Homo sapiens: one gene and its partner. The protein of the gene in region 1 interacts with the protein of each later gene in a pairwise test. Each region holds a gene or a part of one and is shown in the gene's direction. Other genes may lie near its edges.

Evidence for each region.
Region 2: the proteins of AP2A2 (region 1) and AAGAB interact in binary tests that used the Homo sapiens proteins (3 or more experiments, as listed by UniProt).

Annotation. Positions count from the first base shown.
Region 1 is NC_000011.10:928,606-936,142, forward strand, and holds part of AP2A2 (AP-2 complex subunit alpha-2), read left to right. Parts: intron 1-4,919; exon of another isoform or gene 4,920-4,992; intron 4,993-7,537. UniProt on the Homo sapiens protein: Component of the adaptor protein complex 2 (AP-2). Adaptor protein complexes function in protein transport via transport vesicles in different membrane traffic pathways.
Region 2 is NC_000015.10:67,202,640-67,209,661, reverse strand, and holds part of AAGAB (alpha- and gamma-adaptin-binding protein p34), read left to right. Parts: intron 1-117; coding exon 118-200; intron 201-1,003; coding exon 1,004-1,100; intron 1,101-5,513; coding exon 5,514-5,618; intron 5,619-6,064; coding exon 6,065-6,114; intron 6,115-6,763; coding exon 6,764-6,841; 3' UTR 6,842-7,022. UniProt on the Homo sapiens protein: May be involved in endocytic recycling of growth factor receptors such as EGFR.

The DNA of each region.
Region 1 (7,537 bases):
GTTGTGATAAGGAACAATGTCTCCAGGCATTGACAAATGTGCCCTTAGGGCAAAGTTGTCCGCCGTCGAGAACCACTAGTGTATCCCATTGAATAACACAGCCCCTCCCCTGAAGGAGCTCGTAGAAGAAGGGGTGCTTAGTCCTAGCTGGGGGAGCCAGGTCTCTTTAATACGGCCCCTTTCTCGGAATCCTCTTTCCCTCATTGCTGTTGGATGGCCTCTCATCAGCTGCAGCGCCCACCATTCTCCTCCTGGGCAGTGTCTTCAGCTTGTGGTGCTGCTTTTCACCTGAGTGGCCCCATCTCCCCCACTGCCCTCTAGGGTGGCCTCTACAAGGTGCGCACCCTATCTTGCTCATCACATTTTTCCTGCTGTTCTCCTCATGGCGAGCGTCTGGCATGCGAGGTGCATGCCAGAGAAGACCTCACAAGGAAGGTGATTCTTGGGCAATTCAGGCAGAAGACCAAGAAGGTATTAGAGGAACAGCAAATAATTAATGTATATACGTATTGAGTTAATGAATGTTGGCTGGTGCCTGGAGACGGGATTGGAGAGCCAGCCAGGGTTTGAGCTGATCTGAACTTGACCTCCATGTCACAGGCAGAGGGGTCCCCGCTTCCCCTTTCCCTGGCCAGCTCTGATTTTGTGTGCTGTTTTCCTGTCATGAGAGTGAATGATAGGAGTAGTCGGGCCCTGTGGAAAGAGGACTCTGAGCCAACAGCCAAGGCTCTTGACCCTGACTCTGCCTCTTAGCAGCTGCATGAGTGGAGGCCACTGGCCATGGAGCCTCAGTTTCCACAGCGGACAGTTGAAGGGCTGGATTTTCAGCTGAAATATCATTAAAGCTGCGTGAGTGGAGGCCACTAGCCACGGAGCCTCAGTTTCCTCAGCTGACGCTTGAAGGGGCGGATTTTGAGCTGAAATATCGTTAAAGCCTGTTTCAGCTCCAAATTTGCGTCTTTCTGACCAGTTTCTTAAGTTTTCCTCCTTTAGCCTGGGCAATATAGTGAGACCCCTGTCTTTTCAAAAGAGAAAAAAGAATTAGCCAGGCGTGGTGGCACGCACCTGTGGTCCCAGTTACTCAGTGGGCTGAGGTGAGAGCATTGTCTGAGCCCTGGAGGTTGAGGCTGCCATGAACTCGGATTGCGCCACTGCACTCCAGCCTGGGCAGCCTGAGGAGCAGATTGAGACCCTGCCTCAAAAAAAAAGTTTTTCCCCTCCAAGACCTGGTGCCAGCCGGGTGCGGTGGCTCACGCTTGTAATCCCAGCACTTTGGGAGGCTGAGGTGGGCGGATCACCTGAGGTCAGGAGTTCAAGACCAGCCTAGCCAACATAGGGAAACACTGTTTCCACAAAAATACAAACATTAGCTGGGCGTGGTGGCATGCACCTGTAGTCCCAGCTACTCCGGGGGCTGAGGCGGAAGAATCGCTTGAACCCAGGAGGCGGAGCTTGCAGTGAGCTGAGATTGTGCCATTGCACTCCAGCCTGGGTGACAGAGCGAGACTCTGTCTCAAAAAAAAAAAAAAAAAAAAAAAGCCCTGTGCCAAGTATCTGAGGTAGCGGACAGGGAGCATGTGGACACTAGGATGCTCTGTTTTCACTTCAAGTAACCCACTCCCAGCAGACTGGCTTGGGGCATTACTCCTCTTAGCATAGGCAGCAATGAATATGCTCCAGGATTTGAAAAGGTGCCTCGTGTCAAGCTCTGCCCCTCAAAGTTGTAGCTTTTGTGGCTCAGGTAGTGAACTAACTTAATGTCTCCTAAAATTAACTTCATCCTTTCTGATTGACGTCAACCCAGCGGCCACTGCATTTGGTCAGCATGCATTCAGTGTGTGAGAGTTAATAAACTGTTTCTTTTTTTTTAAATTGGCATTAAAAAAATTCTAGTCCTTTTATTTAGTCCCAGTTTTAGAATTTTTTTTTTTTTGAGACGGAGTTGCGCTCTGTCGCCCAGGCTGGAGTGCAGTGGCGCGATCTCGGCTCACTGCAAGCTCCGCCTCCCGGGTTCACACCATTCTGCTGCCTCAGCCTCCCGAGTAGCTGGGACTACAGGTGCACGCCACCACGCCCGGCTAATTTTTTGTATTTTTAGTAGAGACGGGGTTTCACCGTGTTAGCCAGGATGGTCTCGGTCTCCTGACCTCGTGATCCACCGGCCTCGGCCTCCCAAAGTGCTGGGATTACAGGCGTGAGCCACTGTGCCTGGTGCCCTACCTTTCTTAATGTGGACATCTTGCATAACTACAGGACATATTCAACACCAGGAAACAGACACTGGTACACACCACCAGGCATATTCAGATTTCGTTAGATCGACATGCACGTGTGTGTGTGTGGTTCTATGCAGTTTAGCACCTGTAGCTTTGTGTAACCGGTTCCCTACCTCAGTCAAGATACAGAACTATACCATCATCACAAAGCTACCCCTTATAGCCATACTCCTGAAACTAATCTGTTCTCCATCTCTGTAATTTTGTGGGCTCAAGGATGTCATATAAAGGGAATCACATCATATGTGATCTTTTGAGATTGCTTTTTTCCCCCTCAGTACAGTCCCATCGAGGTCCATTCAGGCTGGTGCATTGATTGACATTGTATTTGAGCAAAAGATACCGAGAAAACAAAATAACTGCTGAAATTGGGGAAACAAGACCATAATTATTTGCTATTTATTCAGTTATTTTGGAACTTTCGTTTGTTTTTACACAAATGACATATCTGCAGAGGAGAGTTGTATCTAACTTAGTGAATGCATGTCTTTATGCATTGCTGTTGACATGCCAACACTAGAATATTGTTGGAGAGACACAGCACTGCTGAAAATGTTGTCAGGCTCTGAGAATTGACTGCAAAACAATCAGGACTGCAAGGAAAGGGAAGAAGTGATAAGTCCTTTTGAGACCGGTCAGTTTGCCAGGAAAACAACTTCAGGCAGGAAATGACCATTTTTATTTCTCTACATGTGGTGCTGGTGTGGTGCAGATGCTTGGAGGCGTTTTCTTTAACCCCCCCAGGTCCTCACATGAAGGGGAAACAGATGGAGAGATGTTATTAGCAAGATGGCAAAAATGAATTTCCATGGTCTTGAAGAAAGTGATACAGTTTTGCTGCAGGTTTCACGATAAATTAGAAAAATTATCAGTGCTCTGCTCATTGTGGTTGGCATAAAACTTGGTCCCTTCCATTTCTTGTTTTTTTTTTTTTTTTTTTGAGGCAGAGTCTCCCTCTGTCACCCAGGCTGGAGTGCAGCGGTGTGATCTCGGCTCACTGCAACCTCTGCCTCCTGGGTCCAAGTGATTCTTGTGCCTCAGCCTCCTGAGTAGCTGGGGCTCCGCCACCACCACGCCCGGCTAATTTTTTGTATTTTTTAGTAGAGACAGGGTTTCACTGTATTAGCCAGGATGATCTCGATCTCCTGACCTCGTGAGCCACCACGCCCGGCCAGGTTCAAGTGATTCTTGTGCCTCAGTCTCCCGAGTAGCTGGGATTACAGGTGTCTGCCACCACGCCTAGCTAATTTTTGTGGAGACGTGGTTTCACCAAGTTGGTCAGGCTGGTCTCGAACTCTTGGCCTCAAGTGATCCACCTGCCTCGGCCTCCCAAAGTGCTGGGATTACAGGCGTGAGCCCCTGTGCCTGGCCATTTCTGTTAACTTTCTTGAAATTAGATACCCTTTGAATTGTGTTTCAGTGGGACTAAAGTTAAATTTTATTTGTTCATGCAATTCCAGTTATGGAGTCATAAATTAGATATGGAGAAACTGAACACTAAATTTTAAACTCTGCTTAAACTTCAGTATAAAAATTAAACATAAAGTTATACTGATTTTCGTGCAGACGAGTGAAGATCAGCATCAGAATTGGTCAGTCTGCTTTTGCATTTCTTAAATAACCTTCACAGTTAAAAGCTCATTTTGTCCTTTTGACTGTACATTCCTAAAAAGTGCTGACTCTTAGAAAAGAATGCTCTCCTTGCATGTCTTCTTTTGCATGCTTCTGCATAATGTGTGTTCCTTAGAAACCAGTTTAGGAAATGTGTCATGGTGGCTATGGAGAGAAGGAAGGAAGTCCTTGCTCGGGTTGAATTTTTCTTGCCAAGGTTGGTGGTCACTGCTTCTGGGACACCCTGGTTCTCTTCACAGTGTTTTCCGTCTGGCTCCTCTGAAGGTCAGGATCACTTTCTTTTATGACAAGTTGAAGTGTCCTGGTGGTGAACATATTTTGTGCCAGATACTTACTATTACTTCTCTTTCCTCTTAAAATGAACTGTTACTTTTGGTAACAATCTGTGTCAAGATTTTGTAGTAGAAGAGTTCCTGGAAAGGCTGTCAGTGAAGGATTAAATGGCATTTCCTTGGCTCTTAAAAAAATCAAATACGCCGGGCGCTGCGGTTCACGCCTGTAATCCCAGCACTTCGGGAGTCCGAGCCAGGTGGATCACCTGAGGTCGGGAGTTCGAGACCAGCCTGACCAACATGGAAAAACATGTCTCTACTAAAAATACAAAATTAGCCAGGTGTGGTGGCACGTGTCTGTAATCCCAGGTACTTGGGAGGCTGAGGCAGGAGAATCACTTGAATTTGGGAGGCGGAGGTTGCAGTAAGCCAAGATTGCGCCACTGCACTATAGCCAGGGCGACAAAGTAAGACTCCGTCTCAAAAACAAACAAACAAAAAACCCCAGAAATGAACAGTTTTTACCAGGCCACATGATGTCCCAGACTTAGATTATAAAACCACATTTGCTGATTCTGGCAGCATGTTCCTTCTTCAGAACCTTCCTGACTTTAGCTTGAAAGCTGAGCTGGTTGAAACGTCTTGAAAAGCAGTATGTGCAGTTTTGTCACGAGAGAATTTCCGGGTGGGTGGGATAGGTTGAGGTGGGTGTTCCCGTGTAGAAGTGGGGGCTGAAGCTGTGTGGTAAGATGAGCTCTGTGCTTGGGACAGGGTTGTAAGGGTCTGGCCAAGACGCATAGAAGAAATAGCATGTGAGTAGGAAGCAGCCCTATTTTAAATAGCGCCCTGGAGACTTGAATTGGGAAGAGGACCAAGAAGAGTGTGAGGCAGTGAGATGCCCAGCACCAGGGTGGGAGAGGCGAGTTCCAGTGACTCGTGGGCACTCAGGAGCGGGGATGACCCCAGAGACACAGGGAGCTTGGAACCATGCTTCTGTATTCAGACATGACTTTCTGCCAGCTTTGCACGCTTTTTCCTGAAACATTGTTGGCAGAGGGGAACTTGTATCTTCTGTTCAGTTGATTCTCGATTTTAAACGTTTGTTGCCTTTTGGAGCCTGCACTTCCCCTTACCTGGTGATTGGAGTGTGGGAATGGTTGGGGGTATCAAGGCTTCAGCAGGCTGGGAAGGTGGCAGGAGCACAGGGTGCCAGGGGTGGGCTGAGGGGCTGGTGGGTGCTCCGGGATTTTAGGAGGAGTGCTGTGCCCACAGCTGCTGTGTGTCCCTGAGGCCAGGGAAGTCCTGACTCCCATGCTAGGTTCTTTCTGCCCCATGTAGCTCCCTCAGCGCCCCCACCCCGATACCTCAGGAAACTCCAGGTCGAAACTCCAGGTCGAGTGGCAGACCTCCTGCTGGGTGCGTTCTTAGGAATAACACTTCTAGCCGGGGGTTTGGGTCAGATCCTGATTCTACTCTCCTTTGTTTCCCACTTTTAAATTTTTTATATTTATATTTAAAATTTAGAGACAGGGTCTCACTATGTTGCCCAGGATGGTCTTGAACTCCTTGGCTCAAGTGATCCTCCCCCATCAGCCTCCCAGAGTGCTGGGATTTATAGGTGTGAGCCACTGCGCCCAGCCCTTTCCCACCTTTTCAAATTGTAGCCCTGTCGAGAGCCTGGAGTCTTCATCTTTGCCTGAAATTCAGACTCCGAGTTGTGATGGTTTTGTGTTCATCTCTGTGCTTGGCTTCAGGATACTCCCCATTTACCTTTCTTCTCACCCACCCTAAGCTTTGGTGTCTGTCTACGGGTTTGCTTAGAAGTGTAGAGACCAACAGCCAACATGGGGTGCCTGGCTTTTGTTTTTGCGTTGTGGGGTGTTTTTCTTACCTTTAAAATCCCTCTGATGGCAGCACAAGGGTGTAATGAGGATTAGTTATTTAGCATATCTAAAGAACTTTGAGCTCCTTAGGGCAGGCGGCACTGTATTAGGATTTATGTTTTGCTTTTTCTGTGGACCGCCTTTGTGTTTCATGTAATGTAGCTGAAATAGCAAGTACGTGTTTCTTTTCTTTTCTTTTTTTTTTTTGGAGATGGAGTCTCATTCTCTCACCCAGGCTGGAGTGCAGTGGCGCAATCTTGGTTAACCGCAGCCTCTGTCTCCTGGGTTCAAGCGATTCTCCTGCCTCAGCCTCCGGAGTAGCTGGGATTACAGGAGCGCACCACCATGCCCGGCTAATTTTTGTATTTTTGGTAGAGATGGGGTTTCACCATTTTTTTTTTTTTGAGACTGAGTCTTCCTCTGTTGCCAGGCTAGAGTGCAGTGGTGCGATCTCTGCTCACTGCAACCTCTGCCTCCCAGGTTCAAGTGATTCTCCTGCCTCAGCCTCCCGAGCAGCTTGGACTACAGATGCGCGCACCACCATGCCCGGCTAATTTTTGTATTTTTTTTAGTAGAGACGGACTTTCACCATGTTGACCAGAATGGTCTTGATCTCTTGACCTTGTGATCCGCTAGCCTCGGCCTCCCAAAATGCTGGGATTACAGGTGTGAGCCACCGCGCCCAGCTGGGGTTTCACCATTTTGGCCAGGCTATTCTCAAACTCCTGACCTCAAGCAATCCACCCACCTCGGCCTCTCAAAGTGCTGGGATTACAGGCATGAGCCACTGTGCCTGGGCGGTTTTGAATTTTTAGTAGAGACAGAGTTTCGCCGTGTTGGCCAGGCTGGTCTTGAACTCCTGACCTCAAGTGATGCGCCTGCCTTGGGCCCCCAAAGTGTTGAGATTACAAGTGTGAGCCACTGTGCCCGGCCAGTTTTTTTTTTTTTTTTTTTTTTGAGATAGAGTCTCGCTGTGTTGCCCAGGCTAGAGTGCAGTGGTGTGATCTCGGCTTACTGCAACCTTCGCCTCCCGGGTTCAAACAATTCTCTGTCTCAGCGTCCTGAGTAGCTGGGATTGCAGGCACCTGGCTAATTTTTTGTATTTTTAGTAGAGACGGAGTTTCACCATCTTGGCCAGGCTGGTCTTGAACTCCCGACCTCGTGATCCACCCGCCTTGGCCTCCCAAAGTGCTGGGAATTACAGGCGTGAGCCACTGCGCCCGGCCTATTCCTTTTTTTTTTTTTTTCCCCCAGGCGGAGTCTTGCTCTGTCTCCCAGGTTGGAGTGCAATGGCACTATCTCGGCTCACTGCAAGCTCTGCCTCCTGGGTTCATGCCATTCTTCTGCCTCAGCCTCCCGAGTAGCTGGGACTACAGGCGCCCACCACCACGCCTGCCTAATTTTTTTTTTTTTTATTTTTAGTAGAGATGGGGTTTCACCGTGTTAGCCAGGATGGTCTCTATCTCCTGACCTC
Region 2 (7,022 bases), on another chromosome or scaffold:
TATATATGTAGTTAGAACTTTGGTAACAAATAAGTAGCCTTTGTTTCATCATCATAGCCATTTGAACAGTTTAAAATGTAAATGACAAATTTCACTAAGTGTATTTTTCCTTTTCAGATAGGAACCAAGGCTTTAGCCTTCTCAACTCATTGACTGGAACAAACCATAGCATTGGGTCAGCAGATCCCTGTCACCCAGAGGTAAAGGTTTTTCTTGGATCTTTTTTCCCTCTTTGGCTTTAATTTCTCCTTGTCATTATGAATCTTGACACATTCACCATTGTTTTCCTTTCCATTTAAAAGGTGACAGAGAATGTTAAAAATAGATGAAAGGAAGGTCTAAAACAGCCCTTGCTAAAGCAGTAAGCCCTTTCAAGATGTTTACAGCTTTGGTTTTATTTTTACTAGGGTGCTTTCTAAAATATGCTAGGATTTCCCTGAGGCATTAATTTGCCTTCAGATCTTTAAATAGAAAATAAAATTCATGGTGCTTTTTTAGTACTTCCTGTGTAAAAGACCTTGGCAAATCTGAGGCAAGGTCCCTGTCCTCAATGAGCTTGTAGTCCAGTTTCAACCCTGCATCCTTAAGAACTTTGTTCCAGGTTTACCTTGGTCAGCAGCTGGAGCCAAGAGCAAATTATACAGTGCCACATTGTCTTTCCAGGGATCTTTTTCAACAGCCTCTGAGCTATTTGTGTTACGATTGTGTTACATTTTCACATTTTGAATATAACATGGATCTTAAATGAGACAAACAAAAAACATGTTTTAGTAGTCTAAAGCAAAATCAACGCTTTCTAGTTCTTCCTTGGGGGAAAGTACTTCTGGGTTAGTTAAGTTTTAGCCTTTTATTTTTTTAATGTGATCTTGCTCTTCTTTCTTTGCCTCCAGTTCCTATTACTCTTTTCTCAAGCCAACCAAGGACTGAAAGTGTGAGCTTTTTTGGATTTAGTTCTGAAATAGACTACGATTAAATTGTTGCTTATGTGTATTTTCCTCAACAGCAACCCCATTTGCCAGCAGCAGATAGTACTGAATCCCTCTCTGATCATCGGGGTGGTGCATCTAACACAACAGATGCCCAGGTTGATAGCATTGTGGGTAAGTTCCTCCTTTGGCTGCCAAGAGAGAGCTTTGTGCAACTTGGAATAGGTATCTGGGCAGAAATTGTTGAGGGGGAAATTGACTTTAAACACAGAGAAGGGAAAAAAATTGGTAGTATACCACACATGAATGTGAGCCTTGCCAGTGGCTATCAGAAAAAGGAAGAAGAATAAATATATAACAAATATGTGGGTACCATTTTCTCTTTAATTCTCCTAGCAGGATCTTGATTCAGATAATCTTAGCCAAGGCAGACCGAACCAGGTGGCGAAACAGCTAGCTCTGTATCACGTAGTTTTTTCATAATATTTAACAGAAGTCAGAATCGATGGTGACAAGAATAATACAACTTTATATTTATAAGCCCTTCCATATGCTTTTAAAGTTATTTTATATCCCCTTTCTCATTTGGTAATGAAGTTTTGCAGAGAAGTTTAATAACTTGTCCAAGGACATCTAGCAAGAAGGGCCTGGAGCTGAAGCTGGAATCCAGTATGCTGTCCAAAAGCCAGAAAACCAAGGAGCTTACTTGACAATAACTATAAATCTTCTTTCGCTGGGGAACTACTGATATTCCTACTTTATCTTTATGCTACAGACGGCTCATGTGCAGTAATAAATTTTTAAAACTCTTTTTTCTTATGAGATAATTCATGTAGAAAACTCAAGTGATTGGTTATAGAAACATATGAAGAAGAAGAAAAAATTATGTATAATTTTTTTTCTTTCCAGTTTATTCATCCTTAGCCTCTCAATTGAATCCTTCCCATTGGCTTTTAAACCTGCCAGAGTCTCTGCCATTAAAACAAACTAGTAATCACACTGAAGTGGGTGGGGACTTGAAGCACTAACCTAAGTAACTTTAGAAAACAGTAATTGGACTAGATACCGTAAGGCTAAAAACAAAAATAACTGAACACAGATACTGAACTCTACTTAGTAAATTTGTTTCTTATAGGAGCATGGCTCAGCAATTCTGAAATTTTATATATAGATATTTTATACACCACACATATACTGACATATAGAAAATAAAAAATATAGATAGTGAGAGTTAGGTTTCTCACTGCCAGAGGAAAAAGGTTACAAATAAGGAAAAGGGAAGGCCAAGATGTACCCTTTGGTACTGGATTGGAATCTAATGTATCAGTATGAACTCATGGCTTTAAAAATATACTTACAGTTAAGAAAATAAATACAGATGTGTGTGTATATGCGTGTATTAGTATACACACATATATTTCCTAGTTCTGTCCACTGAGAGGCCTAGAAGCAACAATACCACCATAGCAGTGGACACACTTAGCACTCAGATCTTGCTTTCTTTTTGTGTGTGTGTGTTGTTGTGTTTTTGTTTTTGTTTTTGTTTGAGATGGAGTTTCGCTCTTGTTGCCCAGGGTGGAGTGCAGTGGCACGATCTCGGCTCACCGCAATCTCGCTTCCTGGGTTCAAGCGATTCTCCTGCCTCAGCCTCCTGAGTGGCTGGGATTACAGGCATGTGCCACCACGCCCAGCTAATTTTGTTTTGTGTTGTTTTTTAGTAGAGACGGGGTTTCTGCGTGTTGGTCAGGCTGGTCTCAAACTCCCGACCTCAGGTGATCCACCTGCCTCGACCTCCCAAAGTGCTTGGATTACAGGCGTGAGCCACTGCGCCTGGCCAGATCTTGCTTTCTAAATACCATTCTCCAATAAAAGGAACTAGGGCTCCTTGGAGAAGTGGTTGATTCCAGGACTTGGGCAAGAAAAATACAGGATGACCCTGGAGCATCTCTTGGTACCAGAAATTAAGAAAATTCTCAAAAAAGAATGGGGACATGTTGAAAGGGCATAGGGACCAACCTGAAAGAGCTTCCAGTGGCTAAATCTGGAACAATTTGACCAGCAAAGTAGATTAATATAGTATTGGGTTATAACCCATAGAGTAAGCTAAGTATCCATGAGTTCATACTAATATAAATAAATAATTGAATAAACAAATGAGAAAGAAAGGACAGCATCTCCTTCCAGAAGAATCCCAAGTAATAAATATAGAAGGAATGAGGAAAATAGAAAGCCATCATTAGGCACAAAACACAGTAATAGTTCTTGGTAGCATAGGTGAAAGTTTGAGGAGAAGTAGTATATCTGCATAGTCTAAAAGTATCTCTCTCAAGATGTTTATTTATTACAAAGGGGAAAATAGTAACTTTACACTGGAGAAACTCATCAGATGCCAGCCACTTTAATTATGTAATGAAGGTTAACATCACTGGTAATAAGACATATTGACATAATAGCCCTCCTGATAGGATGCAGTGAGAAGGTAATCTCACCAAAAATGCATAACTGCAATCTAATAATAAGAAAACAATCTGACAAACCCAATTAAGGGACATTATACAAAATAACTGACATACAAGTGTTAAAGTCGTGAAAGACTGAGGAACTGTCACAAATTGGAGAAGACTAAGGAGATTTGACAACTAAATTCCATGTAGGATCTTGGAACAGAAAAAGGATATTAGTGGAAAAACCGATGAAGTCTATGGCATGGTTAATGGCATTATACCAATATTAACTTCTTGATTTTTATAATTGTACCATGGTCATAAACGATGTTAACACTAGGGGAAAGTGGGTGAAGAGCATATAGAAACTCTGTGTACTATTTTTGCAAGTTTTTTTTTAAGAGTAAATTAAGAAAAAGATTTAAGGCAAAACCAAATCAACAAAAACCAAACATTTCCACATCTTCCTCCTTATCTCTTTACTAAACTTGTTTCCATTCCTCACCTCCCATTTGCTCCTCACCTCACTCATGTCTGTCTTTTGCCCCTGGTATGCCACTACAACAGCTCTGTGCAAAGGCCAGCAATGACCTCCATGCCGCTAAATCGGGTAGATATTTTCCAGTCCTCATCTTGACCTCGTGGCAGCATTCAGTGTTACAGATCAATTCCTCTTTGAAACATTTTCTTCCCATGCCTCACCCAACACGGTGTCGCCTGGTTTTCTTCCTACTTCTCTGATTATTCCTTCTCTTTCTTTGGTAGATACCCTTCTTTACCCAGCCTTTAAATATTGTCATTCTTCATTGCTGCATTTAAACTCTTCCAAATCTATATTTAGGCATGGAGTGATTCTGTCTACATTAACAGCTCAATTACTATGTATACACAGATAAATCACAAACTTTTATCTTCAGCCCTATATACCAACTTCCTACATGACATGTCCATTGAACGAAAGCAAATATATTAACCAAGATGCGTTTTTAACACCAAATTGTCTATATGGCATTGTGATAGATGCAAATAATTATAAGTCATCATCCTATCTTCATGGAGCTTAGTCTAAAAATATAGAGATAGGACCTATAATGTAATGGTTAAGGTCATAGTCATTGGAGTCCTGTACAGCTGGGTTCAAATCATGGCTTTATCGCTAGTAATGGCCTTACCTTGAATAAATTAACCTCTGTTGGCATTAGTTTCCTCTTCTGTAAAATAACGGTGATAAATCTTTCCTCATAGGGCTGTTGCAAAGATGCAGTGGAACCATGTAAGTTAAAGCATTCAGTGGTGCAGATCCAAAGCAAATTCTCTCTTATGGTAGTAGTACTTATTAAAGTAGTGGTGGAGAAATGTTAGAATACAAGGTAATATATGCAAGTGCTAAGACAGTTCTGGAAACAATAAGTGTAGAAAGAATTCTAAGGAAGGAGACCTGTGAAAGTGGGATGGGCAGGGAAGACATTCTAAACATAGTGGGCCTGGAGTGGAGAAGGAGTTAAAATTCTGATTAAAAACAAACTTTAATAAAGAAGCAGTGTGCCAAGGTAGAAACAGTAAAAGATTTGTAGTAAGAAAATATGAATTTAAATCAGCTCTACCTCTGAATAGCTGTAATTTTAGATGAGTTCATTTTTAGATACAGGTTTTTTTTTCATATCATTTCTGTTATTCTCAGATAATGTTATCTGTTCTAATCACCTTTTATAGTGGTTGTCGGTAATAGATGTGAAAATATTTGTTGTACAGTAAAATATGGCATAAACTTTAGTCATTATTGGTGAATCAGTGTACCTTAGTGGAGTGAGTATGCTTTCCGAGTTGGAAACACCTGCGTCTGAATCAACTTACTAGCTGTCACCTCGGCAAGTCACTTCAACTCTGAGATGTGGTTTTCTCATCTTTAAAATGGAAATAGTACTCCTTACCTCATGACGATGTTGTGAGGATAAAATAGTTACTCTTCATTTGTGAGGGCCCACTAGCAGCCAAGCAGGGTGAGCCATGAGCTGTAAAGCTGGTATACACTGGGCCTTCGATCATTGGTGACTTCATCAAGGTTAGCATTTGCCTTAGGATTCTCTGAGTGTAGCACATATGCAAATAACGTGACAGATAATGTGACAAATCCCTATTTCAGATCCCATGTTAGATCTGGATATTCAAGAATTAGCCAGTCTTACCACTGGAGGAGGAGATGTGGAGAATTTTGAAAGACTCTTTTCAAAGTTAAAGGAAATGAAAGGTAATCAGATCCATTGTGTCTAATATGTTCCCATGTTGATGCTTGTCTGTTTTACGTAGTAGCATTTTATTTTGTTAACTGCTGGATTGGATTCCTTGTTCTGGTCTCAGCTGTCTTGAGAAACTTAGCTACTCCTGGGACTTGGTAAAAAAAAAAAATTCCCTGGGGAAAATTTTTCCATCTTCGTTCTCTTTCTTTTTACTTTTCCTGCTTTTGCCTTGTTTCTTTCAATGTGTTACATAAGGTGGAAACTGTAAGATCCCTACCAATTTACTCACATCATTCCCATCTGGAAAATTTGGAAGACTTAAAAACTTCCTAATACATGTAATGACTACATCATAAACATGTCTTTGAAACCCGTCTCCCATCTTCTAGTGTTATTCATATACTCCAGGTTATCCTGTGCTATTAGACAAATTTCTTAAGATATATTTTCCCCCTAGACAAGGCTGCGACGCTTCCTCATGAGCAAAGAAAAGTGCATGCAGAAAAGGTGAGACAATCAGCCAGGTATTTATTGAATACCTATAAAAGGTCCAGTGCTATTATTATAATTATATATCACACTTGTGTATTTCTGAAGGGTCTTAGTGTGAGCTTTTCATTGAATATTAACTTCTAACTAATTAAATATTTATACAGTAATAGTATAGTTGCTGCAGTCAAACCAAGATTTTTCACCTGGATGGTGAGTGATGTGGAACCTTTATTGAGACTCAGGATGTTTGCCTTTCTAACTATTGGGCCAGAAAACTCTTAGTTGTTTTGTTTTATTATTACCAACACAACACATGCTATTGGCAGGAAACTTGTATGGTTGATGGTGTTCCCTGATATGTGTCATAATTTATCCTGTTCCCTTTTGGACATTTAGGTCATGTGCATTTTTTGCTTCTATAAATAACAAAGCTGTGCATGTCTTTACACATCATCTTTGTATACAACTCTAAATATATCCTTGGTATAAATTTCTAGATGTGGCGATCATGGGTCAAATGGTATTCAAGGGTTCTGATATGTGTTGCCAGAGGACTGGAGGGCAAAGTGCAGAATTTTAGGTCTCAGTCAGTTTAAGGTATGACATATGAAACAAGCTGAAATGTAGCTGTTGCCTAAAATTTGTTGCATGCTTCTCTCCACAGGTGGCCAAAGCATTCTGGATGGCAATCGGGGGAGACAGAGATGAAATTGAAGGCCTTTCATCTGATGAAGAGCACTGAATTATTCATACTAGGGTTTGACCAACAAAGATGCTAGCTGTCTCTGAGATACCTCTCTACTCAGCCCAGTCATATTTTGCCAAAATTGCCCTTATCATGTTGGCTGCCTGACTTGTTTATAGGGTCCCCTTAATTTTAGTTTTTAGTAGGAGGTTAAGGAGAAATCTTTTTTTTCCTCAGT